Linked DNA regions of Homo sapiens: regions 1, 2, 4, 5 and 6 are each reported to be linked to region 3. Evidence: microRNA targets listed by miRTarBase, many of them from high-throughput screens and not tested one by one. Region 3 holds a microRNA gene; each other region holds the end of a gene's coding sequence. Distances are from middle to middle.

Evidence for each region. The annotated mature microRNA hsa-miR-6504-3p reads CAUUACAGCACAGCCAUUCU and lies in region 3 at 3,095-3,114, shown strand. An mRNA with a match to its seed (bases 2 to 7 or 8) in the 3' UTR can be bound and repressed. Matches are read on the target gene's strand: a 7mer-m8 pairs with bases 2 to 8, a 7mer-A1 pairs with bases 2 to 7 and ends in A, and an 8mer does both.
Region 1: miRTarBase lists KCTD21 as a target of hsa-miR-6504-3p. Seed matches in the 3' UTR shown: 7mer-m8 at 2,439-2,445.
Region 2: the mRNA of FHDC1 is a reported target of hsa-miR-6504-3p. Seed matches in the 3' UTR shown: 7mer-m8 at 905-911.
Region 4: the mRNA of DNAAF10 is a reported target of hsa-miR-6504-3p. Seed matches in the 3' UTR shown: 7mer-m8 at 359-365, 7mer-m8 at 1,147-1,153 and 7mer-m8 at 1,281-1,287.
Region 5: the mRNA of CHST6 is a reported target of hsa-miR-6504-3p. Seed matches in the 3' UTR shown: 7mer-m8 at 2,958-2,964, 7mer-m8 at 2,824-2,830, 7mer-m8 at 2,061-2,067, 7mer-m8 at 1,925-1,931, 7mer-m8 at 1,010-1,016 and 7mer-m8 at 490-496.
Region 6: miRTarBase lists IL6R as a target of hsa-miR-6504-3p. Seed matches in the 3' UTR shown: 7mer-m8 at 2,237-2,243.

Annotation. Positions count from the first base shown.
Region 1 is chr11:78,169,439-78,174,510 of GRCh38, forward strand. It overlaps KCTD21 (potassium channel tetramerization domain containing 21), which reads right to left. Exons shown (of 2, transcript NM_001029859.3): 2 at 1,811-5,072. The coding sequence ends at 4,334. It overlaps KCTD21-AS1 (KCTD21 antisense RNA 1), which reads left to right. Exons shown (of 3, transcript NR_102281.1): 3 at 4,382-4,539. Among named protein-coding and RNA genes, the nearest start is that of KCTD21, 17 kb to the right of the region's middle. RefSeq lists an enhancer at 4,401-4,902.
Region 2 is chr4:152,976,229-152,981,300 of GRCh38, forward strand. It overlaps FHDC1 (FH2 domain containing 1), which reads left to right. Exons shown (of 12, transcript NM_001371116.1): 12 at 1-3,443. The coding sequence ends at 495. Among named protein-coding and RNA genes, the nearest start is that of FHDC1, 42 kb to the left of the region's middle.
Region 3 is chr16:81,608,293-81,613,364 of GRCh38, forward strand. It overlaps MIR6504 (microRNA 6504), which reads left to right and starts at 3,056; the gene lies at 3,056-3,116. The region is part of intron 2 of CMIP (c-Maf inducing protein); the gene reads left to right. RefSeq lists an enhancer at 270-499.
Region 4 is chr2:68,126,482-68,131,553 of GRCh38, reverse strand. DNAAF10 (dynein axonemal assembly factor 10) reads left to right here. Exons shown (of 8, transcript NM_138458.4): 8 at 109-1,749. The coding sequence ends at 316. Among named protein-coding and RNA genes, the nearest start is that of DNAAF10, 29 kb to the left of the region's middle.
Region 5 is chr16:75,474,058-75,479,128 of GRCh38, forward strand. It overlaps CHST6 (carbohydrate sulfotransferase 6), which reads right to left. Exons shown (of 3, transcript NM_021615.5): 3 at 1-5,071. The coding sequence ends at 4,584. Among named protein-coding and RNA genes, the nearest start is that of TMEM170A, 12 kb to the left of the region's middle.
Region 6 is chr1:154,464,824-154,469,883 of GRCh38, reverse strand. It overlaps IL6R (interleukin 6 receptor), which reads right to left. Exons shown (of 10, transcript NM_000565.4): 10 at 434-4,750. The coding sequence ends at 4,504. It also overlaps a transcript of SHE not described here. Among named protein-coding and RNA genes, the nearest start is that of TDRD10, 35 kb to the left of the region's middle. RefSeq lists an enhancer at 4,418-4,919.

The DNA of each region.
Region 1 (5,072 bases), not on the chromosome of region 3:
TCACTGCAATCTCTGCTTCCTAGGTTCAAGCAATTCTTGTACCTCAGCCTCCCGAGTAGCTGGGATTACAGGCACGCACCCCTATGCCTGGCTTATTTTTGTATTTTTAGTAGAGACAGGGTTTCACTATGTTCATCAGGCTGGTCTCGAACTCCTGACCTAAAGTGATCCGCCTACCCTGGCCTCCCAAAATGCTGGGATTACAGGTCTGAGCGACTACACCTAGCCTGATGACTATTTTGTTGTTGTTGTTGTTTGTTTTTTTGAGACGGAGTCTCACTCTGTTGCCAGGCTGAAGTGCAGTGGTGCAATCTGGGCTCACGGCAACCTCCGCCTCCCAGGTTCAAGCTATTCTCCTATCTCAGCCTCCCAAGTTGCTGGGACTACAGGCATGTGCCACCATGCCTAATTTTTGTATTTTTAGTAGAGACGGGGTTTCACCATGTTTGCTAGGATGGTCTTGATCTCTTGACCTCGTGATCCGCGCACCTCGGCCTCCCAAAGTCAGACTGTTTTAAGAGTAATTTGTAAAAGGAAGCTGGAAGTTTGGGGTGAATGGGTGGTTACACAAATGCTGTGTGATTTAGGGTGCAGTTTACAAAAGAGTGGCTGCGTCCTAGGCTGCAAATTCTGAGGTGTGGGCAAGTGGGGACCTTGGCCACCCCTGCACAGGGAGATCTGGCCCAAAGGCAGACCAGGGTCATGAGGCTAGGCCCTTCTTAAGAGGGTGGAGGGCTTTTGGAGGTGCTGAGGGCATGAGGTCAGAGTGGTGCCTGCTGCTGGCCTTCAAGCATGCAGGGTCCCTGTTTGGTGGTGGGCCTCATGAAGGAGTCACACCAAGGTGGGTGCTTAGGGTTCCCTCAAGCACCCATTCTGTCCCTCTGCATGCAGGGGACCACACCTAGGGCAGGAACTGAGAGCTGACGAGTGTTGTGTTCCCGGCGTTGCTCCTTCAGCTGGGATGGAGCCCTTGGCGGGATAAAAGGCTAAACTGGGTCCAGGTGAGATCACCACAAGGTCTCACCCAGGGCAATGAAGGGCTCACAAGCAGCACATCCCTGCTCACAGTTCGCACTCAGACTCACCCGTCTGTCGATGGTGCTGCCATCACTGCTGAACGTTTGTTCTCCGTCTTTCTCATGCTTTTGCCAAGCAGAAGGCTGAGTTCACCTAACCTGGACGCAGGCAACGAGATGCACTGCGTGCCCCCCTTCCCCTTGTGCAGCTGTGGTGTGAACGCATACCCTCCCTTGCTTGCCCTTCCTGCCTGGTTGCCAGCTCTGCTCTTGCTGTTCCCTGTGCCCACGGCACTCTCTTGCTTATTCTGTCAAGCCTGACCTACCCTCAGAGGCCCACCTTGGCCATCCACAAGGCTCCTTCTGAGAACTGAGCCCTTTCCCTGAGTTCCCAAAGCACGTTGTGTGAAGCTCTAAACTTTCTCCAGGCTGAACTTAGCTTACTCGTGGCTGTTCACATCCTCAGGGCCCACGCAGCAAATGCTCTGTAAGGGCTTGTTAAACTCCACTCTCCTGGGACTCCTAGTCCCCCACCAGAGTCCACCATGACTACCTCCTGCAAGAGCACTGAGCTCTTGGGTGCCAGGCCCAGCTCAGGATTTTCACAGACACCAACTCGTTTAAGTTGCATAACCCCGGGAGGAAGGGGTTGTTACCTGATGAGCAAACAAATCAGAGAAGTTCAATGACTTGTCCAAGGTTACAGAGGCTTGGAGCTCTGGATTCAAACCCAAGTCACTGTGACTCAAGACCAGTGTTTTTCCCCGTTACAAGCAGACACAAAAGAATAACAATCCTTTATCATTTATACTGTATTCTCACGTTACATTATTTCATTTGATCCTCACAACAGCCCTGTGAGGTAGGTAGGGTTATGTATTACTGTTATGCCTATTTCACAGATGAAGAAATGGAGGTGGCTCAGTGAGGTGAGTGACTTGCATAAAGTCACACAGCATGTTAGTGGCTTCACTGCTTCTGCAACTTCTCTAAAGTCAAGCTGCTTGGATTAGGGAGCACCGAAAAGATGGACAGTTTTATGGAAAAGGAGAAAGGGCAGTGGTGATTTGTAAGATTTCTTCCTCAAATTGTTTTGTTATGACCACAGCTTCTGCTACTTGGTCTAAACTAGGTTCTCCATGAGGGGCTCTCCCAAGTACCCTTGGCCTGGGACAGCTGTCTTTTTTTGGGATGGAGTCTCTCTGCAATGGCACACTCTCAGCTCACTGCAACCTCTGCTATCTGGGTTCAAGCGATTCTACTGCCTCAGCCTCCCAAATAGCTGGGGTTATAGGCGCCTGTCACCACACCCAGCTAATTTTTGTATTTTTAGCAGAGACGACGTTTCACCATGTTGGCCAGGCTGGTCTTGAACTCCTGACCTCAAGTGATCTTCCCGCCTCGGCCTCCCAGAGTGTTGGGATTACAGGCATGAGCCACTGTGCCTGGCAGAAAAGCTGTCAGAGAGACTCCTGGGTCCCACCGTAGGGGGAAAAGGGCCTTTACTGCTCAAGGGAACTGGCGCTGCCCATGGCCCAGTGTACAAGCTCCCTACTCACAGGGCCTATCTATGGGAAGCCCCTTTCTGGGCCCACCTCCCATGGGTGCCTGTGTCACCAGGCTTCCTTGGCTTTGAGGACCCCTGCCCAGTGGGGGAGGACCCTGGGGACTCTCAAGGCCAAACTCACTTTAGGGATGAATCATGACGTGCAGTTTGGAGGCCTGCATGGCTCATCACCCGGTGGGAAGCAGTGCTTGGGTTGCTTGCCCTGGATGGCACCCTACAGAGACCCAGGGGTGGGACACAGGACTGCAGGGGAAGGCCGCCTTCCTGAGGGCAGGGTCTTAGGGGCCGCACATTTACTCTAAGGGCACTGTTACGGTTCATACCACTCCTGGGCTCCTTGCTGCACAGCACCCTTGGAGACCGTCTCTTTCCTCTGGATCTCCTCAGGGGCCGTGAATCTTCCTCTTCCAGCAGAAAATGGTCGAAAGGTATATGGAGCCACAGATGGTGGGGAAGGTGGGTGAAGTGGGGGTCACAAACGAGGTGAAGCTACAACAAAAGGGGACTGACTTACAGGGGATAGAAAAGAGCTAACTTTGATTCTGAAGACAGATCCCAGAGGGGAATCTGAATTCTGAGTAATGATGTTTTCAGAAAAATGTCTGGTCTCTCAAGGTGACTATTTTGAAAGCAAAGATATATAACTGGGTGAATGGGAAGGTCTGCAACCAAGATCCAGCAAGTGGCAGGACAGATTTTGGCTCAATATAGGGAAGAACTGTCTAACAGTCAGCACTGTCCAACCACAGCAGGAGCTGCCTTGGGGATGGCGCGCTTCCTATCAGCCAAGGTATGCAAGCAGGCCAAGGTGATCACTTGCAGGTACCCAGGGAGAGGCGCTCATCTTCAGATGTGCTGGGGTGTTCTAGGGGTGGGGGAGGACTAAGCAATCATCGAATTATTTCCAACCCTGAGAATCCGTAATAGATTTGTTTAAAATGACCTGTTTCAATGATACCTCAAATTTTTGGGAAAACAATGACAAAAGTCAGGTAACAGGCTGGATTTGGAAGTGATTTCATTACACTGGCTACAGATACTTGCACATTTTTGCAAAGATAGCAGACCCTTTCTAAAGCCAGGAATCCCTTGATTCAGCCCTATCAAGAGGGACATTCCTACCTTCTGAACTCTGCCTGGACACTCATTCCTCTAGACCCTGCCACACCTCATCTCTGACCCCCAAGAGGGGACACTAACAGAGCTCTGAGAATGCACAGCATTCCAAGCCAGCCAAACATGGTCACCCCTGGGCAAACATCCACGATCATGGATGCACCCTGGGGAGGGAGGAGCAGGTGTGACAGGAACCGCTGGGGACTTTATGTCCTGGTTAACTGGAGGTAGCCTCTTGTTCTCATCCCATCCTCTCCACCAGGGCCTTCTTACAGATGGATAAATGCGGCACTGGCTAGCGGTACAGAGAGATGGAGCCCAGGAGAAAACTGCTGCTCTTTTGTCCTGGCTGGAAAATCCTCCTATGGCCTCCTTTAGTACACATCAGCTGACTCTTCACTTGTCATAATAAACCGCCTGTCTGCAGCTCAAAATGGCAAGAAAAAAGGTGGTTCTGTTCAGAGGACACTGGATTCCAAAAGGTGGACTTCATCATGGGGGGAATCAAGTCCTGCTACACAATTAATACAGATTAGTATAGTCCCCTGCCTCGCACCACTGGCGAGATGCCCTCCAAGACCTGGCTGACATGAGCTTCCTGGGACTCCCCATCTCCAGTGTTGTTGGGGTCCTTTTACCTGTACCGTATTAATCGAATAATCTTATTGTTCATAAAATCCAGAGCATGTGGGTGAGAAGAATCGATGCAGAAGCCATCGCTCAGAGCGATTTTCAGTACCTCTTCCACGAAGACCTGGAAGCTGTTGATCTGCTTGTTGGCGGGCACCACCCAGAGCCTCTTGAGGTTCTGCTTGGTGTACTCCTCCTCTGGCAGGCCCTCCACATTGGCCACCCAGTCCAGAGTCAGGTGGTTGGGGTCCTGCAAGTGGCTGGTGATGGAGGAGAGATTGCCATTGGAGCAGTAGAAGAGCTTAGAGCCAAGGAGCTTGAGGAAGAGGCAGGAGGTGCTGAAGATGTTGGCGTTGAAGACCTCCATGCTGGAAGAGGAGAGGCTGTAGATCTGGGGTGCCTCGCGCACAGTGAAGTGGACCGTCTGCACACGCTGGTTCAGTGTGATGTTGAGCATGGCATTCTTCTCGGCCTTGGAGAGCTCCACTTCCTTCTCCTGCAGGGCCTCAATCAGGGGCTGCACCTGGTAGAAGTCGGCCTCCCTGCGGAGCAGCCCCATCTCCTGGAAGTCCTCAGGCAGGTCAAGGTGGGAGGTCCGCAGGAAGTTGAGGATATAGCGGAACACTTTGCCGTCACGGTCAATGAAGCAGTTGCCCTGGCTGTCCCTCTTGGTGGGCATCTTCCCGCTGAACATGGCGCCTAGCATGGAGTCAGGGAAGCTGGTCAGGGTCGCCAGTGAGGTT
Region 2 (5,072 bases), not on the chromosome of region 3:
TCTTTCAAGAAGCCCAGTGCCAAACCACTCAGGAACCTCCCCAGACAGAAGCCTGAGGAAAATAAGACCTGCCGCGCCCACTCCGAGGGCCCTGAGAGTCCCAAAGAAGAGCCCAAGACCCCGTCAGTGCCCAGCGTCCCCCACGAACTACCCCGTGTCCCGAGCTTTGCCCGGAACACAGTGGCCTCCTCCTCTCGAAGCATGAGAACAGATCTTCCTCCCGTGGCCAAAGCCCCCGGCATCACTCGGACAGTGTCGCAGCGGCAGCTGAGGGTGAAAGGGGACCCCGAGGATGCCGCTCCCAAGGACAGCAGCACTTTGAGGCGAGCCAGCAGTGCCCGGGCCCCCAAGAAGCGCCCAGAGTCTGCGGAGGGTCCCAGTGCCAACACGGAGGCCCCTCTGAAGGCCAGAGGGGCTGGGGAAAGGGCCTCCCTCCGTCGGAAGGACTCCAGTCGGACCACGCTGGGGAGAATCCTCAATCCCTTACGGAAGTGATGGGTGCCTGTCCTCTCCTGCCTCCTGGGATTCAGACGGTGAAGACTGACTTCTGGGACGAGGATGGGGAAAGAGGCAGCATGTCTTTGTTACAGATAAAGCAGCCACTGGTGCCACTGCTAGTGACGCTGTTGGGATGGCACAGTCCAGGAGGCCTGTGGACTGCAGCCTGCTGTGCTGAGCCCTGCTGCAGTCCAGCGTCCAGATGGATGCACGTTCACTACTGTGACGGCCGCACCTCCCCCATGCACCCCACCCTCCCCCAAAGCCCGGATCCCGAGAAAGATTTAGTAGGAGTGTAAAGTGACATTCTTATGAAACAAGTCAAAAAAGTTTTTTTCAGGCCAGTTTTTATATATCAAAGACTTTCTTTTTAATATAAAAATTAGCTAGGTGCAGTGGTTCATGCCTGTAATCCAGCACTTTGGGAGGCTAAGATGAGTGGATTGCTTGAGCCTAGGAGTTCGAGACCAGCCTAGGCAACATGGAGAAACCCCGTCTCTATCAGAAATACAAAATTTAGCCGAGTGTGGTGGCACATGCCTGTGGCCCCAGCCACTCTGAACGCTGAGATGGGAAGGTCACTTGAGCCCAGGACCCCACCACTGCACTCCAGCCTGGATGACAGAGTGAGACCTTGTCTCAAACAAAACAAAACAAAAATGAAATGTTCTAGTTTTGGTTCCTTTTGCAGAGTGAAATGCCTCCCAGGAAAAAAATACATATGTATTTTTTTGCGACAGGGTCGTGCTCTTGTCTCCCAGACTGGACTGCAGTGGCACAATCATAGCTCACTGCAGCTTTGACCTCCCAGACCCAAGTGATCCTCCCACCTCAGCCTCCCTCAGAGCTGGGACTACAGGCGTGCACCACCACGCCTGGTTAATTGTTTTTTTTTAATTTATCTTTTGTAGAGATGGGATCTCACTATGTTGCTCAGGCTGATCTCGAGCTCCTGGGCTCAAGTGATCCTCCCACCTCAGCCTCCCAAAGTGCTGGGATTACAGGTGTGAGCCACCACACTTGGCCAGTATATCCTCAGTATGAAGATATTTTTATCTTCCTGTGTTCTCTGGCTTCAGAGTTTCACCTGCCCACACAGGGTCCGTTGCTGGCAACTGGACTTCCCCATAAGCCTTGGGTATCCTGTGATGGGCTGTGTCTCCCTGAAGATTGTCTGGCTTGCCCACTTCTCCGTGCATGACTCTGGGTGTGAGTCTGTCTAGGAACAGGAGGGAAAGTTGGACTCAGACAGAAATCAGATGCTTCCATGTATTCAGGGCGCGCATTGTGAGCAGTGGAGTATGAGCCTTGAGGGCCTCATGGTTGCAGGGCAGGCTTCCCTGCAGATGGGTGGCAGCCCCTGGTAGAATGCTGGATTTCTCTGGAATCTAGAAGTGCCATATTTTAGTGGAAAGGCATCAGGGCTGTTTGACAGTGTGCGTCTTTCCAATCCCATGTTCCTCCATTCGTGTGTCTGTTATAAAACTGAGTGAAGGCTGCTATGACCTGTGTTCACTCTGGTTACAGGGAGGTGCAAACCATTCTGTCTCCCAGCCTTTCTTCTCTCTTTGTGTGCTCCCAGCACTTCCTTCTTTTCTAACATGGCCTGGAGAGAGTCTCTCTCTCCTTGTCTCTGTCTCTTAATAATAGTTTTTAACGTGGACATCTCTTCCTTGGTACAGTGGTTTTTAAATACTGAGAAGAACCAAGTCAGGTTTTTTAAAGCAGACTAAAAGCATGAAATTGCTTTCAGAAGAATGTATATCATCGGGAAAAGTTCGGGGGCAGAGTGGGGGAATCAGGCTTTATTCAAAAGAAACAGTTGAAAACATGGGACTTTTTCTACCCAATGCCCATTTCACGACTCCTCTGAGACTAATTGGGAAACGGGGAAATTCTTGGAATTTTTTTTTTAAGAAACTTTTTTGTGTTTTTTTTAATTTTAGGTCACTTATTAGTGAAACCTCATTTTAGATCTGACATTGGTAGATAGATGGATTTAGGCAAATATGATGCGTTTGTGGGGAATCCACGTGGTTGACGTTAGAACCTCCCTTCTGCAGACTGTTGCCTGTCATCTAAGCGAATTGGAAATGCTGAGCTTCCATAAGTCAGCTGAGTTTTAAAGGTAAACGTTATGGCTGAAATAGTAAAGCACCTGACCACAAAACCTCTTGTAAAAACAGCCCTGAGTAGGTATTTCCAGGGCTCCACAAAGTTGCTTATGGGAATCCTGAGCTGCTTTTCACCATCTCAAGAAGCCTAAGAAGTTATATATTTAATCAGGTAGACAAAACAGTTCAAAGCATAAGGTCCATGGTGGTGGAAAATGGATGCAAGTGATTCTAAGTTTGTGGATTTGTGGATAGCAGAGGGATCGGGACCTCTTGGAGGAACCCTGGGTACCAAGCTCCCAGGCCCTTCCTCTATCATGGATGCTGGGTGACTTTGGGAAGTCACCACCTCTTCCCAAGCCTGTTTCCCATATCACAGATGTGGGGCCATGGCCTCGATGATGGTCTCCACAGGTCTTTCCACCTCTGTGAGTCCAAGTCAGGTCAATCAGCAAGGACCCATCTCTGCCCTGGGTCAGCTCCTCAGAACCAACCCCCAGCATCTCTAAAGCAAAAGCCTCACCTCAAGGGCTGCTCAGAAGAGAGCACCTTCAGCATGAGTTGTTGCTGGAAGATCTAATAAGCTGTGTTTCCTGGGAAGTGGTGCTTTACTTAGCCCTGTGGACAACTTCTCTATGCATCTGTGTGAGCAGATGATCATTGTATTACCTTTTATCGGTAGTAAGCTTGGAAAAATAATTTAAGAATACAATGGAGAAATGTAAATAAGTATCTATGTAAATTTGTTTAAAATAAACTGAATGTATTTAATGGTCCATTTATATGTTCTTTTATGTAACATGTAGTTTAATAAAGTTCCTGTTTATGAGAGTCATGTTTCATCTCAGCTTCTTCCATGGATGTGTCTGTGTGATCTTGCTGGGAGAGTATTCAATTTCCTGCCCAGAGAGAAGCAGAGATCCAGGAGGCTAGGGAGGGTTGGGATACAGCTGACTTGTCCTCCAAAGGCTCAAGAGCCTAAATGAGGCTGTTGGCTGTGTGTCTTCTTGATAGCACAGAACCTGCTCATAATTGAGGGCTTAGGGAGTGGGCCTTGCCCCAGGCCGTGGGGATGTAACCCCGCCTCTGACACGCAGGCTGTCGATGAAGTGCGCAGCTCACGTTATTCCATGCTGAGCTGAGTTTTTTGTCATCTCCGTGGGCCTGGCAAGTCTAAATGGTGTCCTGGGTGTCCTGCATTTTGGTTCAGGACACCATTAGGAAATCACAACTCACCTCATGGCTGACTCAGGAATGAGCAGAGAGGAGGGAGAGATGGCTTGATATGACCGGCATTGTGCATATTTGAAAAGGAGTGGCGATTGTGCCTCAGATACACCTCATACCTCGGATTATGTCATGTTTCAGTCCTAGCTACTTGCCTGCTTTATCTGAAGTGGGCTAGAGGAACATCCCTGGGTCAGAATCAGCAGATGAGAGTAAATTATGTTCTTGTTGGGAGTTGCTGCTTGCTCCCTGAACATGTGGAAGTTGGTCTTGTCTGTGTTATAAGCAGTTTGGGACACCAGACTCCTCCCTAAACCTTCAGTCCTGCTGCTCAAGGGATTACTGACATGTACTGCCCCCGTCCCCCCACCAAGAAAGCTTTTTATTTTTCTAATGGGTCTCAAGTAATCTTCCATTTCTCCTTCCCTTTTATTTTATGGCTTTCATAAAGAATCTGTGGCTTCATCCTCCTAAAGAAATTCATTAAATTAAAGGGGCCACCATCTCCTAATTGTTCATTCAAGACTGCATATTTATGTGTTAGGGTGAGGGACCCCAGAAGACTTTGGAAGAACTATTAATCCACCTTCGGGGGTGTGTACATTTGTGAATTTCTGCCTCTAAGGGTGCAGTATCCTTTCCCTAGCTCCCCCCGTATGGCAATGATGACATTTTGCAATTTTACAGAATTTTCCATTGAAACTTAAACTTAATTCATCATTATATTTTTGCTGCATGCTCCAACCCTGTCAGAAAAATAGAAGAGAGAATTTTTTTGGTGCGTGTCCCCAAACACATATAATCATCAAATGTATAAACCAAATTTGAATAAAGGACATTGCATCTGATCACTCATTAAGTGCTGCTTAAAATTATTTGGGCTGTGAGCACAAACAAACTGGGGCACCGGGGTCTCTGCAAAATCACCCTGCTCAGCATCTGTGGGGAAAGAATGCATAGCTCAGGCCGAATCTGCGGCAGGGTGGAAAACACAACCCAGAGCACCCGCTCCTCAGGGCTTTTCGTCCACTAATATCTCCCGGTTTGGATGTCCCACAGCTCACTGGATCTCCTAAGTGAAGACAAGAGTAACGTGGTAGTTGAAGAAAACGGCTTTTCTGTCTGCTGGGCCAGAGCTCTGCAATGGGGCTTTTGGCTTCCTGATTGGTAGGTAGGACAATTGGACTGGCCGCAAGCAGCATTCATAGTTGTTCATTCACAGACCCTTTACCA
Region 3 (5,072 bases):
TAGAGGGGACTTCAGGCATTGCTGGATCCGGGGGTCAGATGACATCATTAATATTGGGCATCTCTCTCTCCATCTCCTGGCTGTGCTTCTGTGTGCTGGCTTCATTGGCAGAATCTCACCATGTGGTAGGAAAGATGACCCACCTGCAGCCCAAAGCCACATCCTTAGAGGCTGTAATCCTTAAGAGTGAGCGCCCTTTTTCTTTCCAGTACCTTTTACAAAATCTCATGGAAGATCCTGATTGGCTCTGCCGTGTTCCCATTCAGCCCCCAGGAATTCACTCCCCCGGATTACCCGCCCACCCTTGACCTCAGGCAAGGCCCAGGTCTCGGATTGGTAGCCCCACCAGGACCACACAGAGGCGGTGAGGTGCGTCCACCAAGAATGGAGAAGTGACTGACAAAAACCACGACCACGGTCACACATACATAAGACATGTTACATCATGTCAGGGGAGCCAGCCAATTTTCAGAAGGAACCCCGAGTCTGAAACCCCTCATCTAGAGAAAATTTACTCTCTTATCAGTGGGAAGAAGACCTGCCTTGCTTTTTCTTTTGGGATCATTTTATTCCTAACTTGTTTTTCCAGGGAAACCTTCTCTTAGCCCAAAGAGATGCTTTCTAAAAACCTATTTTAGATCTAGCAGCCACTGGATTGTGTAACAGCATTGGGCTGAGAGTCACCCAGTCTGGGCTCCAAGGAATGCTGAGCTCAGTAGCGGAGCGTAACAACTTAGCATTGTTAGAAATGTCCTGTTTCTTACTGTCATCTCTCAGAGGACTCTGGAAACCACGCCTGCCCCAGTCTGCTTTCTTCTTAGTGAATCTCTCACACTCTGCCCTCTACGCTTTTCTTTTAACCCTGTCCCCACACCCCCACACTGTCCCTCCCCCCCTCCCCACCACAGCCAGCAAAGCCTTCCTCTTCTTTCTTTCTCTCCTCTCATCTTTATGATAGAGGTCAGTGTCACCCTCCTGCCAGACACTTCTGCCAGCTCCTCTGCCTCTTCACTCGCTCCTTCTTGCCCATCCGATGGCTGCAGCACAGAGTCCATGAAGGGGGTGGTCAGTGCCAGCCCCCCTCGGCGGGGGAGATGGGGCGGGCAATCACAGGGTTCAGTGGCCAACGGAGAGGTAGGGTAGCCAGAGATTGTCCTACCCCAATGACTTTGCTGTAGTCACAGAGCTTTGAGGCAGCCTCTCCCCTGTGCTCGGGGAGGCCCCATGCGTGAAGAGCCCCTCAGCCCCTGGGGAGACAGAGCCATAAACAAATGATTACGGAAATAATGGCTAAATTAGAGGCAACCGTGGAGGACTGGGAGCCCAGAGAAGGAGGAACTTATTTGGCCTGGGGGGCCAAAGCAGGCTCCCCAGACAGGGGGCATTTGAACTGGGTGTAGAGGGATGAGTAGAAGTGTGCCAGAATGGTGGGGTGGGGGCACACTCCCCGGGCAGAGGGGATGTGTGTGCAAAGCCTGAATATGGGGGACCTGGGTACTTGCTGCAGCTGGAGGAGATGGAGAGATGGAGTTTGGGGCTGTGGATATGTCTAGATCTGTTGGGCGATGGCCAGATCACCCAGGCCTTGCCAGCCAAGTGAAGAAGCCTCAGACCCTCTTCCAAAGGCAATAGGCAGCCACTGAAAGCTCTGAAGGGGTAGAGGGACACTAGAGGAATCAGTGTGGTGGCAGGGCAGAGGGGCCTAGATCTGTGCATGACAGAGAGGCAGGAGGGAGCCCCTTGAAACATTCCAGTTGGAGGAGAGGAGGCCCTGAGCCTCCACTTTCCTGCTCCACCAGCAAAGGGGCCTCATTCCTTCTGGGGCTGGAGGGGCAGCCCTGGCCTCCAAAGGAGGCCAGAGCATCACTCGCCACAGGGATGGAGGGGCAGTGAGGCTGAAAAGCAGAGAAGCAGTGCCTGGAATGTCCCTTTAACCCGGCTGTGGCCGCGGGCCCAGCTGTGATGACTCGCCTGGCCGCCGTGTCTGGCAGGGCTTCAGGACAGAGCTGCCGCCGTGGTGCTGAGGAGCCGAGCGGGCGGGGAGCCTCTAGCTGCTCCAGCATCCCACTTGCTCACTGCCCCCTGATCCCGTGGACAGCGCAGTCAGAGGCAGGAGCAGGAGAGGAGGAAGCAGAGGAAAAGGAGGAGGAGGAGGCGGCTTGCAACTCCTCAGATCCAGAGCCGGACTCCGAGCTAATGAGGGAGCAGCAGACACGGCCTCCCAACCCTTCCCCCAAGGGGAACCCAGGTGGGTGCAGCCCCTGCCCCTGGCGGCTGTGGTTCTCTCCCTGGCTGCCATTTCCGTCAGGGGAGGTAGACCTGGATCGGCTTCTCCCTTGCTTCCCTCTCATCCTCACCCCCACACTCTGCCCACCGTGATGCATGGGTGGTATGTAGCTGGCTCATTCTATAAACAGGGCTAGCGAGTCTGTGTGGTTCTAGGGAGGCTGGGGCGGGGTGCACTTGGCCCCTGGTGTGGTACTCAGGGCTTTCTTCAGTCCTGGTTGTATTCACGTGCCTTTTGTGACGGGTGGCAGGACCCTCTGCTTTGAGAGGCTGTACTTTGTCTTGATTCACATACAACATACTGTATTAGATCCCAGAGCCGTGGTGTCACAGAGAACAACCCCTTTGGCCCTGGGGACAGATCTTCCCTGCTCCAGGGTGGGAGAGGGGACCAAGAAACAGCCAGGTGCCCATCTGAACGGCATTACCTTAGTGCTCCTAGTCAGCAGATGAGTGAAAGTGCCTTAAATGGTGCCGCCCGGCACAGCCACCAGCAGCCACGCATGGCAGCCCACAGATGGATTTAATTTACTCATCAAATTAATAACACAGTTCCTCAGTCCCGTTAGCTACACCTCCAGTGGCCAGGGGCCACACATGGCCAAAGGCTGCTGTGTTGGACAGCGCACATAAAGAACATTTCCATTGACACACGAAGTTCTGTGGAGCAGTGCTGACCTCGAGGCCTTTTCATTTTGACCTCATACTGCAGGCACCTGAGCCCCTCCTGGGGCGAATCACGTCAGATCACAGGGGGCTCTTCGATCTTGCAGTCTGGCTGTGCTGTAATGCAGTCTGCACCCTGCTGCATTACAGCACAGCCATTCTCTCTACAGACAAGGGGAATGGCGGGGCCCAAAGAGGGCTAGTGCCCCTTCCCTACCCCAGCCTGCCTGATCTCTCTCCATCTCTGTCTCTTTCAGGTTCTTTGCATCCATGTGTGTCTGTTTTCCTCTCTCTCATGCCTTTTCTCCATCTCTCTCCCCTCCTTCCCCTTCTGTCCCCTCCTGCCTCTCCTCTTTCTCTCTCTTTAGTCCTTGCTGTGGCTCACTCTGGGCTTCTCTTGCAGGTCCTTCCTCCAGGCCTCTCACCACCTCTGAGCCTGTCCCCCAGTCCTCTCTGTGTGTCTCTCCCCTCTTCTCTTCCTCCTCCTCCGCTCTCTCTGTCTTCTAAGGAGCTCTTTGTAAAACTCTTACTTTGTTAGAATTTGAATCAATGCCTCTTGCAGACCTCGGGGAGCTGACCTGATCCTTCAAGGAAGGCAGAGAGGACATTCAGGCCCATGCCCCTCATCCCCAGCTCAGAGACAGAGCAATCTACCAGCAGGTTGAGTTGGCAGACAGAGGCGCCCAGCCTTCCAGCGTGGGTCCAGTTGGTGTGTTTTGGATGCTTTGTGTTTTCAGCGTGAGCTCCCTCACTGCCATGTTATTAGAATCCCTCGTTGCAGAAAGGGCCTGTTTATCCCATTTCCTCCATTGATGCCCTTTCTGCTAGCATTTCATTGTGGGGAGGCCAAGCATGTAAGTACATAGACAGTGTCATGAAAACGTCCTGAAGGTGCTGTCACTGGCCCCTGGGATGGGGTAGCAGGCATTAAAGAGCAGCGCGGCGCAGATCATCTTCTGGGGGATTCTGCCTAAAAATTGAGTGGCTGCCCATCAGCAAAAATTAGACAGAGCCGCTGCTCCACAAACAAGGCTTCAGGCAAGATAAGAGCAGGGAGACCCTCCTCCCAAGAGTGTCTGCTTCTTTCGGGGATGGGTTCCGGGACTCGGCTCTTCTCACCAATGTTCTGGAAAGTCCTGCAGGAGGCGGGGCAACTGTTTACCCCAAACATTGGCAGCAGGGCAGGGACGGGGTGGGTTCCTTTCTTACTGGAAGGTAGCAAGCAGGACTTTTCCGGTCTGGAAAGCACCAGAAAGGTCTCACTCTCTAGCTTCCAGTAAGAAAGGAAGCTCCTTTTCCCTAAGAAACTGGGCCGGGGAAGGGGAGCTTGGAAAAGGTCGCTCACAGCGCACCCTGGGCTGTTTTTCTCACCTCTCAAGACAATGCAACAATGAGAAAGAACTTGGCAAGTTTGGGAGAGGAAATTGGGCAGCGTTTGCCTGGAACCAGGCCCTTTCAGCATTCCAAAGATTTAACACCAGAAGTCGGAAGCCTGGAACCAGCTGCCCGCAGGCTTCCGGGGGACTTGGGGTCTGGCTGGGGACCTCTCCCATGTCTGAATGGATTCTCCTCTGAGTGACCCTCAGGGTTGGGCTGGGGGACCTTTCCCAGGTCTGAATGGATTCTCCTCAGAGTGACCCTCGGGGTTCCAGCCATGCCTTATGTTCCCACTGGGCTGAGTTCTCTTGGCTCAGCCACCAGCAGGACAGTATGGGGACTCTGCACAGAAGCGTGACCCTTCCCCCAGCTGGAACGCAGCCTGGTCAGCTTTCCCTTTGCTTGGAAGCCCCTTAGAGATGCCTGTGCTGGGACTCAAGACATTGCCTAGCAGCGTATGTCCTCCTTCAAAAGTAGACAAGCCAAAGGAACGAGCAGTTTACAGTCCGGCCTTGTCCCAACCTTTTTGGCTCCATCAGCCTCCACCTGCTCTCCTAGAGGCAAGTTCTGGCGCTTCCCTTAGTTTCAAGGTGAGGTCTCCTGCGTGCCACATCCTTCCTCCTCCTGCTTCATCAGTAGGGCAGCTACCATGGAGAAATAATGCTCACGGATGTCCCAACCCAAGTCCTGGGAATCCAGAGGAGCTCAGATGCATTGCTTCATGTTCCAGGGCTGGATTGCAG
Region 4 (5,072 bases), not on the chromosome of region 3:
TTAGTCCCAGTAACCAACTGAGAAATAGAGTCATTGAAGTGTATGTATAAAAATAAAATGGTGAAAGCTAAGATTTATGCGCTCTTACCATTTTGATCTTGTTTTCAGTGAATACCCTATTCAGCGGTCAAAGAAAGATTCTGAGGGAATAGAAATGGGAGTCGCAGGTTCTGTAAGCCTTCTGCAGAATGTTACGTTGTCCACCCAGCCCATTTCAAGTTTGGATTGGAGTCCAGATAAAAGGGGTCTCTGCGTCTGTAGTTCATTTGACCAAACGGTGAGAGTACTGATCGTTACAAAGCTCAATAAAATTTGACTTCAAGACTTTGGACTTGAGGCTGGGCACGGTGGCTCACTCCTGTAATCCCAGCACTTTGGGAGGCCGAGGCGGGTGGATCAGAAGGTCAGGAGATCGAGACCATCCTGGCTAACATGGTGAAACCCCGTCTCTACTAAAAATATAAAAAAAAATTTGCTGGGTGTCATGGCGGGCATCTGTAGTCCTAGCTACTTGGGAGGCTGAGGCAGGAGAATGGCGTGAACCCGGGAGGCGGAGGTTGCAGTGAGCCGAGATTGTGCCACTGCACTCCAGCCTGGGCAACTGAGCAAGACTGTCTCAAAAAAAAAAAAAAAAAAAAAGACTTTGGACTTGAAACCTTCCAGAGGAACACTCACACAATTTAAGATAGGTTCTGGAGTCCTCTGACCCTCATTGAACAAAGCTGGATTTGGCTGATGATAAAAGACCCCAGCCACAAGCCTCTGGGCCAGCCTCCAGCCTCTCTCGGGGCTTGTTTGCTGACTTGCTGCTGCACGTGGGTATCAGAAGCACCAAGTAAACTATCTCCAGGGCCAGTTCTTTTCTCTCCCTTCCATTTCTAAGTCAATAGTTGTCTATAATTAAACATATTTCAGATTTGTTCTGTGTCCCTGAAGTTCCATATTTTATCTTTATGCTTGTGTTATGTTTTAGTGTCTATAATGTTGTGGTGGGAATCATTTCATTTGGTTTAAAAGAGTTTGCCTTGGAAAAACTGAATTAACCTTCATAAATACATTTTGAGAGATTTCAGTGTGAGTAATTTTCTGGACATAATATTATTGTATAAAATATCAAAATGGTGGGCCAGGCGTGGTAGCTCACGCCTGTAATTCCAGCACTTTGGGAGGCTGAGGCGGGTGAATCACGAGGTCAGGAATTCGAGACCAGCCTGGCCAACATGGTCAAAACCCGTCTCTACTAAAAATACAAAAAATTAGCTGGGCTTAGTGGCGGGCGCCTGTAATCACAGCTACTTGGGAGGCTGAGGCAGGAGAATCACTTGAACCCAGGAGGTGGAGATTGCAGTGAGCTGAGATTGCGCCACTGCACTCCAGCCCTGGCGACAGAGTGAGACTCCGTCTCAAAAAAAAAAAAAACAAATATATATATATATATCTCTCTCTCTCAAAACGGCACGGTTGGTCTAGATTTGGGTAGCTATTTTCTGCAATTTAATTCATAAAACAAAATGCTTTGATTTTAAAGAGCTCTTTTTTACTTAAAATACAGGAACTGAATTGGTGAGACTTTTGGTTTTTGACTGTGGTAAGTGATGGTGAAATGTACAAGATTGTAGGGGTTTTGTAGTCTTATTTTTGGTCATACTTTAAAAATGCATTTTATGAATAAACTTCTGTTTTTGAGATCTACAGAAGCTTTGATTCTGTTACCTTAACAGTAGTAATAAAGTTAACATTGTCACATCATTTTGCTTTATAAATGCTTAATTAGTAGTTTTAATTCACTTTGTTTCTTTAATGTTCAACATATCTTTAGCTAAGCCTTTTGGAATTATTGACTTTACCACATTTTCATTAAGCCTACCCTCCCCCACCTCCATTGAAGAGAACGCAGCCACCTAAAACATTCACAATATGTAAAGTATATGTGATTTCAGGGGATCATGGAGAGTCACTTATTTGGAATATTAAGTTAAGAAAATTAAGGTTTTTTTTTTTTTAGTTTAGAAAATTTTTAGAAGTCTCTCTTAGAACACTTGTATTTGGTAATAGAGTCAACAACAATAAATACCTGTATTTTATTAAATCTAAGATGTCATCAATATCACTGATGCTATGCCATTCAAGAAAACGGAGCCAACTAAAACATTCATAATATGCAAAATTTATGTGATTTCAGGTGATCATGGAGAGTCACTTATTTGGAATATTACGTTGAGAAAATTAAGCTTTTTTTTTGTTGTTGTTTCCAAATTTTTTTTTTTTTTTTTTTTGAGGCAAATTTTTTTTTTTTCTTGTTCTGTCACCCAGGCGGGAGTGCAGTGTCATGATCTCGGCTCACCTGCAACCTCTGCCTCCCGGGTTCAAGCAATGCTTCTGCCTCAGTCTCCCGAGTAGCTGGGATTACAGGCATGCACTACCATGTCCTGCTAATTTTTGTATTTTTAGTAGAGATAGGGTTTCACCATGTTGGCCAGGTTGGTCTTGAACTCCTGACCTCAGGTGATCCGCCCGCCTCAGCCTCCCAAAGTGTTGGGATTACAGACGTGAGTCACCGCACCCAGCCCCAATGTTTTATAGAACAATGGGATATAATTATGAAAGTAAAAATTAAATTGAACTTTTAAAAAAGTTTATATCTACTTTTTTTTAATTTGCAAAGAAAAAAATGGAAAATTTGTGGAAATCTCTCCTAGGACACTTGTATTTGGTAATATAATAGAATCAACAACAATAAACACCTGTATTTCATTAAATCTAAGATGTCATTGATATCACTGATGCTAGGCTGGTATGATGAAACTGTGATAAAATCCTTTCTTTTTATCACTATTTGCTTTATATTAATTGAGTGTTCTTTTAATTTTATTTACACATAGTTTTTTTTCCATTGTGTATCACTTGTGTGCATCCTTAAAAAGAACCACATAAACAGGAGACTATTATTCTAGGTAAGGTAACTCAGGAATGGAAAACCAAACATTGTATGTTCTCATAAGTGGGAGCTAAGCTATGAGGATGCAGAGGCATGAGAATGACACACTGGGCTTTGGGGACTCGGGGAAAGATGGGAAGGGTGTGAGGGATCAAAGACTACAAATCAGGTTCAGTGTTTACTGCTCGGGTGATGGGCGCACCAAAATCTCACAGATCACCACTAAAGAACCTACTCATGTAACCAAATACCACCTGTTCCCCCCAAACTTATGGAAATAAAAAAATTAAAGAAAAATTTATACAAAATAAATTTGGTATGCTATTCCTTAGATTCCTTCATATTCAGAGTTTAATTCTTCTAAATCACTTTTTGAATTCAGAGCCATCAGTGTTCATGGTTTTCCTTATAATATTGTCCTTTGTGCATAAAAGTGTTTGTGATGTAGCATTTCTTTAAAACATGTTCCACTATTGCCTTCAGGGTTTTCTTTCAATTCACTGACACTTCTTCAACATGTTTTTGTGTATACATACATGCAGGCAGTGACAACTGTCAAGACTGCAGCCTGGCTGACCACGATTATTTCAGTTCCCTATTGCTGTATAACAAACCACTGCAGACCTTCATATCTTAAACACTAACTATCATTTATTTTGCTTAGGAGTCTATGATTTGGGCAGGGTTCAGCAAGGAAGGCTCATCTATGCTCCATATAGCATGAGGCAGGCAGCTCTACTAAAGGCTGGTGGACCTGCTTCCAAGATGGCACTCACTCATATTGCTTGCAAGTTGGTGCTGGCTGTTAGCTGGGACCTCAACCAGATCTGAGAAGCAAGGGCTGAGCTCGCCACATGGCATAGGGTTCCTGAGCATGGTGGCCAGGTTCCAAGGGTGAGCATCCCAAGAGAAGACCAGGCAGAAGCTATCTTGTTTTTTTAATGACCTATCTTCATAATTTACTTAGCAATCACTTTGCCACACTATTAGTTGAGGCAATCACAACCTCCTATCCCAAGTGCAAGGGCAGAGTACATACATTCTACTTCCTTTTTCTTTGTGTGTGTGTGTGTGTGAGACAAGGTCTTACTCTGTTGCTCTGTTGCCCAGGCTGGAGTGCAGTGGCACCATCATTGCTCACTGCAGCCTCAACCTCCTGGGCTTAAAGAATCCTCCCACCTCAGCTACCAGAATAGCTAGGACTACAGGTGTATGCTGCCACACCCAGCTAAATGTTTAAAATTCCCTGTGGAGATGAAGTAAATTCTACTTTTTGATGGGGTCTTGGCTAGGTTCTGAAAGAGCATGTGAGCTGGGCGTGGTGGCTCACGCCTGTAATCCCAGCACTTTGGGAGGCCAAGGCAGGTGGATCACCTGAGGTCAGGAGTTTGAGACCAGCCTGGCCAACATGGTGAAACCCTGTCTCTACTAAAAATACAAAAATTATCCGGGCGTGGTCATACACCCCTGTAATCCCAGTTACTTGGGAGGCTGAGGTGGGAGAATTGCTTGAACCTGGGAGGCGGAGTGTGCAGTGAGCTGAGATTGTGCCACTGGACTCCAGCCTGTGCGACAGAGTGAGACCCCCATCTCAAAAAACAGAAAAAAAAAAAAAAAAAAAAAAAAAAAAGCATGTGAGACTTGAAATACTGTGGCTAGTTTTGGAAAAGACAATCTGGTGTAGTGATTATAAGATGCATCCTAATTTCAAAGATGCATAAATGGGCAGAAGGATGTGCTCATTTGAATTGATGAAATACATTGCTTCAAATGCAGATACTCCTATCCCATCTACGTACACCCTTCCCTTCCCCTAATTTATTGCAGACATGACTAATCAATCATGCCACTCATTCTTCCTGAGCCTCAGAAGCTTTATCACACTCTGCTAGGAGCCACTACCAACTGCTGGCAAGTGAGATAAAATGGGTTTACTCTCCTGAATCTAGAGAATGATGCCCTGTGAAAAACAGGTAGCCTCCTGGACCAGGAGTCATTGGACTCTCCTCTCTCCTAATCCGTGGCTTTGTGTTTCAGTATGCCAAGAAATGATGAGGCTCTCCAGCACTAGACCATGTAAACCAAACTGATGCAAAAACCAAAATGGCGCATCATTCATATGTAGTGAGGGATG
Region 5 (5,071 bases), 6.1 Mb from region 3:
CCAGCTACTCGGGAGGCTGAGGCAGGAGAATCGCTTGAAACTGGGAGGCGGAGGTTGCAGTGAGCCAAGATGGCGCCACTGCACTCCAGCCTGGGGGACAAGAGCAAGACTCTGCCTCAAAAAAACAGAAACAAAAACATTGTTTTTCTTTGTGAATCTGTCTTTTCATTAAAAAGTCTCTCTTAATCTGTTTTGTTTTGCTATAACAATACCACAGATGGGGTCATTTATTTAGAGATAGGTGTCTTGCTCTGTCACTCAGGCTGGAGTGCACTGGCATGATCATGGTTCAATGTAGCCTCAACCTCCCAGGGTCAAGCAGTCCTCCCAACTCAGCCTCCCAAGTAGCTAGGACTACAGGTGCACGACACCATGCCCTGCTAATTTTTTTTTAACTTTGTAGAGATGGGGTCTCACTATGTTGCCCAGGCTGGTCTTGAGTGCCTGGTCTCAAGTGATCCTCCTGCCTCAGCCTTGCAAAGTATTGGGATTACAGGCGTGAGCCACTGAACCCAGCAAGGGTCATATATAATAAATAGAAGTGTATTGGCTTACAGTTCTGGAGGCTGGGAAGCCCAAGATCAAGGAGCCAGCATCTAGCGAGAGCCTTCTTGCTGTGTCCTAGCATGATGGAAGGCATCATATGGCAGAAGGGCAAAGTGAGGGCGAGAGAAAGACAAAGAATGAACTCCTTCATTTAAAAGGCACCACTCTCAGGATAACCAACTCACTCCTGAAATAATGGTGGTTTTTTTTAAGACAGACTCTCGCTTTGTTGCCCAGGCTGGAGTACAGTGGTGCGATCTCAGCTCACTGCAATCTCTGCCTCCTGGGTTCAAGCGATTCTCCTGTCTCAGCCTCCCAAGTAGCTGGCCTTACAGGCATGTGCCACCACACCTGGCTAATTTTTGTATTTTAACTAGAAATGGTGTTTTACCTTGTTGGCCAGGCTGGTCTCAAACTCCTGACCTCAAGTAATCCGCACACCTCAACCTCCCAAAATGCTGGGATTACAGACATGAGCTACCATGCCTGCGCCCAGAAATAATGTTCTCTACCCATTCACAAGGGCATAACCCGCACGGCGTAATTTACTTTCCATCAAGCCTCACCTCACAACACTGGGGATCAAGGTTCCAACTTTGGGAGACACAATCAAATCACAGCAGAGCCCCAGCTGAAAACCTAAGACAGGTGGAGGTAAAGTTTTGCTTCCAAGGCCTATGCTTCAAACTGGCTCACAGGAAGTTGCACTACACTTGTCTACAGGACAAAGCAAGTCACAGGACCAGCCTGGATTCAGAGGTGGAGAAACAGACTCTACTTCTTGATGGCAGGAGCCATGGTCACACAGCACAGAGTGTCAACACAGCAAACCACTAACAGTGGTCAATGCAGTCACCCCCACAGCAACCCAGAGCTCTGTGCCCTGTCACAGCATTGGGCAGTCCCCAGTGATTAAACCTTCCTGTTGGGACTGCACTCTCACAGAGATATAAGACATACGTGATCAGCACAAGTATGTACCTACCCAGCCCTGGCTTTACTGTGCCTAGTCAGCCAGGCCACTTTCTTTGTCCTGAAAGCTGACCTGGGTTCACTGTGAGGCTTGACTGTACTGCCCATGCGCAGAGAGCAAATTCAGGAGCCAGTCAAGCATGTCCTGACACCTTGGGAGTCAGGGGAGAATGGATGGGTCATACAACAAAGGACTTGGATACCAAGAGGCCATTAATTGCAGCCATCAATAAAATTTGTGACCTAAACAGGGGCAAATGAAGCTTGTTGGGCATGCTGGCTGGGCATGAGATGGAGTCTTGCTCTGTCATCCAGGCTGGAGTGCAGTGGCATTATCTCGGCTCACTGCACTGTCCGCCTCCTGGATTCAAGGGATTCTCCTGCCTCAGCCTCCTGAGTAGCTGGAATTACAGGTGTGCACCACCACACCCGGCTAATTTTTTTTATTTTTAGTAGAGATGGGGTTTCACCATGTTGGCCAGGCTGGTCTCAAACTCCTGACCTCAAGTGATCCACCTGCCTCAGCCTTCCAAAATGCTGGGATTACAGGCATGAGCCACCACGCCTGGCTTGTGGTTGAAATCTTAACCCACAATATGATGGTGTTGGGATGTGGAGCCTTTGGGAGGTGATTAGATAATGAAGGTGGAGACCTCAAGAATGGGATTAGTGACATTCTTTAAAAGGCCCTGGAGACTGGGTACAGTGGCTCATGCCTGTAATCTCAGCACTTTGGGAGGCTGAGGTGGGCAGATCACTTGAGGTCAGGAGTTTGAGACCAACCTGGCCAATATGGTGAAACCCAGTGTCTACAAAAATACAAAAATTAGCTGGGCATGGTGGTGCATCCCTGTAGTCCCAGCTCCTCAGGAGGCTGAGGCAGGAGAATTGCTTGAACTCAGGAGGCAGAGAGAGGCAGAGGTTGCAGTGAGCCGAGATTGTGCCACTGCACTCCAGCCTGGGCGACAGAGCCAGACTCCATCTCAAAAAAAAAAAAAAAAAAAAAAAAATGGCCCTGGAGAGCTGTCTCCCATCTTCTACGATAAGAGGACACAGCTAGAAGGCACTGTCTTTGAAAAAGTGGGCCCTCATCAGACAGCACTGGTGGCTTGATCTTGGACTTCCCAGTCTCCAGACTTGTGAGAAGAACATTTGTTTATAAGTTACCCAGTCTTTTTTTTTTTTTTGAGATGGAGTCTTGCTCTGTCACCCAGGCTGGAGTGCAATGGCGTGATCTTGGCTCACTGCAACCTCCGCCTCCTGGGTTCAAGCGATTCTCCTGCCTCAGCTTCCCGAGGAGCTGGGATTACAGGTATGTGCGACCATGCCTCGCTAATTTTGTATTTTTAGTAGAGGAGGGGCTTCGCCATGTTGGCCAGGCTGTTCTTGAATGCCTGACCTCAGGTGATTCATCCCCCTCGGCCTCCCACAGTGCTGGGATTACAGGCATGAGCCACTGCATCCAGCCAAGTTACCCACTCTTAAGGTATTTTGTTATAACCACCTGAACAAGAACAAAGACATTCTCTAAGCCATGTAGTACACATTCATAAATCTGGGGTTTTAAATACCTTCCTCCTATAATTGTCACGAGGGACAGATTCAAGTTTCATTTGGTTGAAGCTTCTAAACCTGGAAGGAACCTAAAATGAGCTTCAGCTTCAAGGCTAATGTGCCTGTTCTCCCTCCACGTAAAGCAGAAAATGCCAGATCTCCCTTGCCCTGCTTGCTTTGCAGGGAGGATGTGACTCCACAATCCAGGTTCCCCCAATCTGTGGCCACACCCAGGATGAGGATCAGAAGCTAGTGACCACCAGCATCGCTCCTGGTAGCTGATGGCAACGTGAGGGAAACTGCCTCATTTCACAGGTAACAGGGTCAGAAGTTCTGTTGGCAGCCAACACAGTTCCCAGACCAGCTCTGTGTTCCAATGTGACTTGGGTTCATTTATGTGGCTAACTCAACTTCCCTGTCCTTTCCAGAGGTTCCATGAGCTCTTCTTTTAAACATGTACTGGGCACTTATAGGCTCTCATTTCCTGAGCTCGGGACTAAACCCTCTACACATCCAGCATTCCTTTACTAAGCCCCTTTGCCCCCAGAGCTAGGAGGTGTGGCTCACAGGCAGGGATCATCCTCTGCTTTCCTCCAAGGCCTGGACCAGAAGGACCAAGGGAAGACAGTTCCAGCCCAGAGCCATTTCCCTTCCAACCTCTTGGCAAGCCTGATGAGTTCCACTCCCCGCTGACGGGCACACCTGCCTTCCAGGCACTGATCCTGCTTTCCCCCTCTTGCTCTGCCACTCACTGTGCCTGGCTTGCTGCCCAGCCCTCCCCAGCCTTCTCTCCTCCTACCTTTCCCACTTATTGCCTCCTTCCAGGCTTGTCCAGCATGATAAACTCTGGTCTCAGCATTCACAGCCTCCTCTATCTCTCAGCTGTGTCCCTGGTCATGACTCTGCTTGCTCTTCCCTAAAGCAATTAAAATAGGAAAATCTGACCCTTCTCACCCAGGAGGCAGGTCCTCTCCTATCCACTGGAGACCCAGAGCAAAAGCTCTCTCCTCCCTTCATCCTCCTTCTCACCATGTGATTTCAGACAAGTCCTTTCACTTCCGAGTTTTGCCATGTGTGCCTGTGTGCATATGTATGTGATGTACAGACCTCTGGAGCCATTTCACCACAGTGCCTCTCCACTCCCAGCCAGTGCCAGGGCACCCCCTCAGCTGCTGCAGGATGTGTCACCAGAAGGAGAGAGTTAAAGGGGAAGAAAGCCCTTGAGTAGGAGCCAAGTCATCTGAACGCACACCCTGTGCCCAGAGGAGGAGGGGCAAGAGTTGCTTTCCATGAAGAGTGCACCTGATGAGAAGGCAGCTCCAGAGGACTCAAAGGAAAACCAAGAATCAAGAGAGAAAGAAACGTGCAGTCCTTGCCTACTTGGGGAGGGGGAGGGGTCGTACCACAAACTCCTTGGTCAATATAGGGACCTGCTTCTCCGTGCGCCCCAGCCCCCTCTGCACCATGCACTCTCCTCCCGGGCCTAGCGCCTGCTACAACTGTGGCCTCCACTAATTTCGGGGGTGCGAGGCGGTGGATGATGCCCAAGTGAAGCCGTTCAGGCCTCGTGGCAGCACCAGATCAAGGGCGAGGTTGCGCTGCTCGTCCTCAGAGTACACAGGCCGGTAGCCCAGCAGCTGCAGCGCACCAGCGCACAGTTCCTGCACGCGGCGGATCTTGGCAAAGGGCAGCGCATGGCGCCAGGCCTGGGAGACGTTGAGCGCATTCCTGGACGAAGTCTTGAAGGCTTCGCGGCGCGCACCAGGTCCAGATCCGTGGGTGATGTTATGGATCCAGGCCTCGAGCTGTGGCGTGAGACTGAGCCCAGTGAAGGCGTAGAGCGCACGGATTTCTGCCAGCGGCTCCCGCGCCAGGTCCTCGAAGCGCACCAGGCGGTAGCGGCCGCGCAGAAAGGGTGGCGGCTTGAGTGTGGCGGCCTCGGCGATGCGTACGTGGCTACGGCACACCTCGCGCACCACGCGCAGGCCGGGGTCGGCCT
Region 6 (5,060 bases), not on the chromosome of region 3:
CCTTTTCAGTAGGGGATGGATTTGGTCTATCTGATGATCAAGAGTTCAGGGTGGCCTTTGTGATAGTGTTACACCCCCTCCCAGGTCCAATAAACAGTCTTCTGACAAATAATGGCCCTTCCTTTTCCTTCCCCACCTGTCCACCACCTGGTAATGTGATGTAAGCGTGGCAAAATCCCACACACCCCTTCCAGAAATCCCAGGACTCGTGTGGGAAATACTGTCATAATTAAAGCCTTCTGAGAAATTGCTGCTTCTTCCTTGAACTTACCTACTTTTGAGCGGTCCTTTAATCCTGCATTAAGGGGATACCCCCCCAAAAATGGTTCTACTTAATTATCCCCCCTTCCTCACTCCTTTCTCCTCATGAATCAGGCAAGCCTTTTTTTTTTAGATGACCCAGATGCCCAAAGCAATAATTACATTTCAAGGGTATTTTTTAAGAGTATTTATTCCAAACACAATGTTCACTTTAAATGCAAAATAGCTGGTAGAAAAAAAAACACTGAAAAATATACTGACCCTTTGCCCCATATACAGACATCAGCCTTTGGTATTTGCTTTCAGGTAATTAGGTAAAACAAACAAACAAAAACTTGAAACTATTATTTATCTCCAAGAAAACAACGTAGAGTTGAGGTATTCTATTTAACAGATGTGATCTCCATCCAATAAGGTCTCTCTGTTAATTAACAGCCTTGTGACATGCTGTTCCAATCCTTTCCTCCTAAAGTAGAATTTCATTTGAGCATATGTTCATAAAACTGACAGTGTTCCTTAATAATCACTAAGGTTGCCATAGAAACTCCCTGGTGCTGGTGCCCAGCCGCACGGAGGACAGGAGGCCTTCACAGGGCACTGAGGAGGGCCTGGCACGGACCCTGAACTGGCCCGCCTGCCCCTCCGTGTGCAGCCCCTGCCCACGGCTGCACGGGACAGCTGGGTGCAGGGCTCTTGCCTCAAAGGGTCACAGGTTGCCCCTGCATCTCCAAATTAAGACCACCAACTCCACCTGGAGCTGGTGTCAGCATCCTCCCCACCTGGGTTAGCCTTCTGGACGTGCTGTGAGATAATAGAGCTCAGCACCAAAGCAGCTGGGAAGACATTCCTGAACATTCTCCAGGAAACAAACCCATAGACCACAACATGCCCAGCCTGCCCCACTGGGCCCTGTTCACTACCAGGTGGGCTTCCAGCCTGGTTCCAGCAACAGATTCCACAACCTGCCGCGGCAACCAGTTTCCTTTCTCCCAAGACAGCAGGGAAGTGCCAGAGGCTCCGTGTGAACTCAGAGCCTGATAAAGAAAGCGTAAGGGCAAGTCCCCATCAGGGCCAAGAGCTCTCTGAGTTACCAAAGGCCTCGTCAACATAGCCAGTGCTACCCCTGGACACATTTCTTGAAAATATTTCATTAATGCTACAAACATTATTGATCATTTTACTTTAGGCCTTGAACCAGCATATTTTTTACTTTCCCCACCCAGCAGGATAAGCTGTCGTATTTAACCTAAATGGTCTCTGTCTCAGCGTTTCACGTCTGGCTGCGTGGCAGATGGCTACAGGTGTTAGGCAAATAACAGCACTGCTGGGGACTCAAGGCAGTGGGGGTGCTGCAGAAACACAGGTAGAAATGCCCCGTGCATTGAGACACATGTTCAGTCACCACAGATTAGAGAACATAGAGAGCTTAGGATGTATACCTGTGTACGCTGAGCCAGGCCTACAGCCCAGAGAAGACATTTTTTCTTCATTTACATTAGCTTATGAAAAATAAAGGGAAAACAACCCTCTTCAATACAAAAACAAAAAAACAAAACAAAGCAATTCCATTACAATAAAAATGAAAGCAATAACAATTTGGAGATCAAAGCTGCCTAGCTCTTGGCAATAATGAGCTATCTGGATTTCACATCTTCCGCTAGCATGGTTCTGCCCGGCTTTGGTAACACCACATGTGGGTAAAACGGTATAAAGAATTGAAGAACTGTGGGCACAGAATCACCCTTACTGCAGATTCTCATTCTTAATATTTCCCTTTAACAGCATTTTGCTGTTCTCAAGTCTCAGAAACTTTATGTGGTGGGATGGGAGGGAACCACCATAACCGCCTGCCTGCCTTTTTTTTTCTTAACTGTTATTGTTCATAATAGAGATGGTGTCTCACTATGTTACCCAGGTTGGTCTCAAACTCCTGAGCTCAAGCAATCCTCCCACCTTGGCCTCCCAAAGTGCTAGGATTACAGGCGTGAGCCACCGCGCCCGGCCATCCTGCCTTTTTGCCAACCTAAGATGAGTTGCCTCAAGCAGCAATAGGGTCTAAAATCTACAGACAAGCCCAGCAATGAAAATCACGGCTTACTGAAGACAGTAACAGCTTAAACCTGGAAAACCGTAAACAAAACATGGTCACTTTCATCCTTTCGCACCTGTCTGGTGATGGTGGTGGTTTTTCTAAGAGGGTAGAGTATTAGAAAAGTTTTGTGGTCTGGTAAATATTGGGTCCATGGTTACACGGCTGATTTAAATCATATCCCCACTCTGGAATACCCTGATAACTTGAGAGCTAACTGGGTAACCACTAACACCACTGAATTTTCAAAGCTCGGACAGAAAAGTCAGCTGAAGTGGTTAATCATGGTGTTACAACTAGACATTTAGTCCTGCTTCAATTCTTGCAGAGCTGAATCAACTCAAGGAACTAAATAAAAAGAGGAAGGCACCGAGGTAAGGGATTTTTTTTAAATGGGATTTTTTTAAAACCTCTTTGATAGCAGAAAGCTCAGGGCTTTCAGGGTGGGGAATTTCTAGGACCCTGCCGGGCAGTCGTGGGAGGCTTCCTTCTCGGCACTGGGACAGGGACCGGACACCCTCTCCATAACCACCTGGGGGAGTAGTCACACGCTGGTTTTTCCCTAGAGTAGAGAAGAGGCAGGCTATTTTTCCACTTTTTAAGACAAAAACAAAATACAGAATGAAACCACAATCTCTTCTCTAATAGGGAAAATATTTTTTCTTTTTCTTTTTCTTTTTTTGAGACAGGGTCTCACTTGCTCTGTCACCCAGGCTGGAGTGCAGTGGTGCAATCTCGGCTCACTGCAGCCTTGACCTCCCAGGCTCAAGAGATCCTCCCACCTCAGCCCCCCAAGTATCTGGGACTTCAGGCACACTCTACCACACTTGGCTAATTTTTATGCTTTTTGTAGAGATGGGGTTTTATCACATTGCCCAGGCTGATCTCAAACTTCTGGACTCAAGTGATCCTCCTGCCTCGACCTCCCGAAGTGCGTGGGCCACCATGCCTGGCAGGAAAATATTTTTTCTCTTCCTCCTTTTTCACTTGACTTGGTTTTGGGCTAAACAAAGTTATGGTGCTTCCCCCACACCTAAGTAAGTTACTTCTATGCTGACACAGCGAATATTGGATATTCCACCCTCTCAAGAGAAAACAGTCAGCAGTTTTTTAAAAACCAAGTTTAAACACATTCTTGCCAGGCTCATTTTTCTTTTCACATTGTCTTCCTTAATATTATCTTCCCTAGTTACCCAGGTTCAGCTGACAACAAACAAAGCTGCAGTAAAACCGTTTTGATCTCAGAAATGGCAGAAGCCCTCCCTGCTGCTAGCTCTCCTTTGTGGGAGGTGGAGAAGAGAGAACATTGGTTTTCAGAGGCTGTGATCCCCCACTCAGCTCCCACTCTACAGGGGATGGTAGAGACCCTGTGCCCCTCTCCTCTCCTTCCTCTGCTTCTCACCTGAGGTCCTGCAACCCAAAGCCAATGCAGTTGCCTCTGTATTCAGCAAATGCCTAGGATCATCATTCACATTTAGCAAAATGCTAATGAGGAACTAATTATAATTCTGTTGAAAACGACCAGGCCCTGAGATACTGTATTATTCACCCACTCACCCTCAGCTGTTTTTCAACTGTAGGGAAGAAAGGGAGGAGAGAGCTTCTTCCCCCAGCCTTGGCGGTTTAAGTAAAAGCCGTCCCCAGGCCTAGAAAAACAGAATTTGCTAAGGCACTTGGGTTTTAAGAGTTTGAGTTGGAAGATGAAACGATGCAGTGGGCCAGGAGCATGGCGGCTGGAGGAGGCTTTGGCTGGAAATCCATCCCACCTGCCTGAGGGTGCAGCTTGTGCAGAGGTGTTGAGGGGTGGGCTGCCAGCCGCTTCTCCACACCGAGGCCCCCACCAACCTGCCCAGCTTTTGAGTGTCCGTGTGAGTGTCCAAAGAGTCTTGATATGGTTCTCTTCACAGTGGCCCAAGTTCACTCTAGCCCCTTTAAGCTGGGCATTTGGAAAGGGAGGTTTGAAACCTCAACCAGCTGAACAGCTGGAGCAGGCTGATTTTCCCCTGGCGTAGAACCTTCCGCAAGGCTCTTCCGTGAAGCCAAAGGCCGCACACCCCTGAGATAAGCTGGCATGGCAGTGAGAAGCATCTTTTGCTGAGCCCGTTTGTGTTTTATCATCCACAGGGTCCAGGCTGCTGGTGCCACCCAGCCAGCTATCTGGGGAAGAAGTAGTCTGTATTGCTGATGTCATAAGGGCTCCGTGGGTCCCTGGCATCTGGTCGGTTGTGGCTCGAGGTATTGTCAGACCCCAGGCTGCTGGGGGACACCGGTGGGGAGATGAGAGGAACAAGCACTGGGGTGGGTCGAGGCCTCTCCGGGACCAGCTGCCCCAAAGAGTACGGCGGATGCATGCTTGTCTTGCCTTCCTTCAGAGCCCGCAGCTTCCACGTCTTCTTGAACCTTCACACAAACACACAAAGACAAACCACACAGATTTTTAGCTCCCCCTGTGACAAGCCCACAGTGGAAAACACCAACAGCTGGCTGCCCTGGTGGCCTGGCGCGCCCAGGTTTCGGCTCAAAGGAGCAATAACTATCAGCTGTCTTTTTGTTTTTTGTTCATTTGTTTGTTTTGAGACAGGATCTTGCTCTGTTACCCAGGCTGGAGTGCTATGGCGTGATCTCAGCTCACAGCAGCCTCAACCTCCTTGGGCTCAGGTGATTCTTCCACCTCAGCCTCCTGAGTAGCTGGGGCTACAGGTGTGTGCCA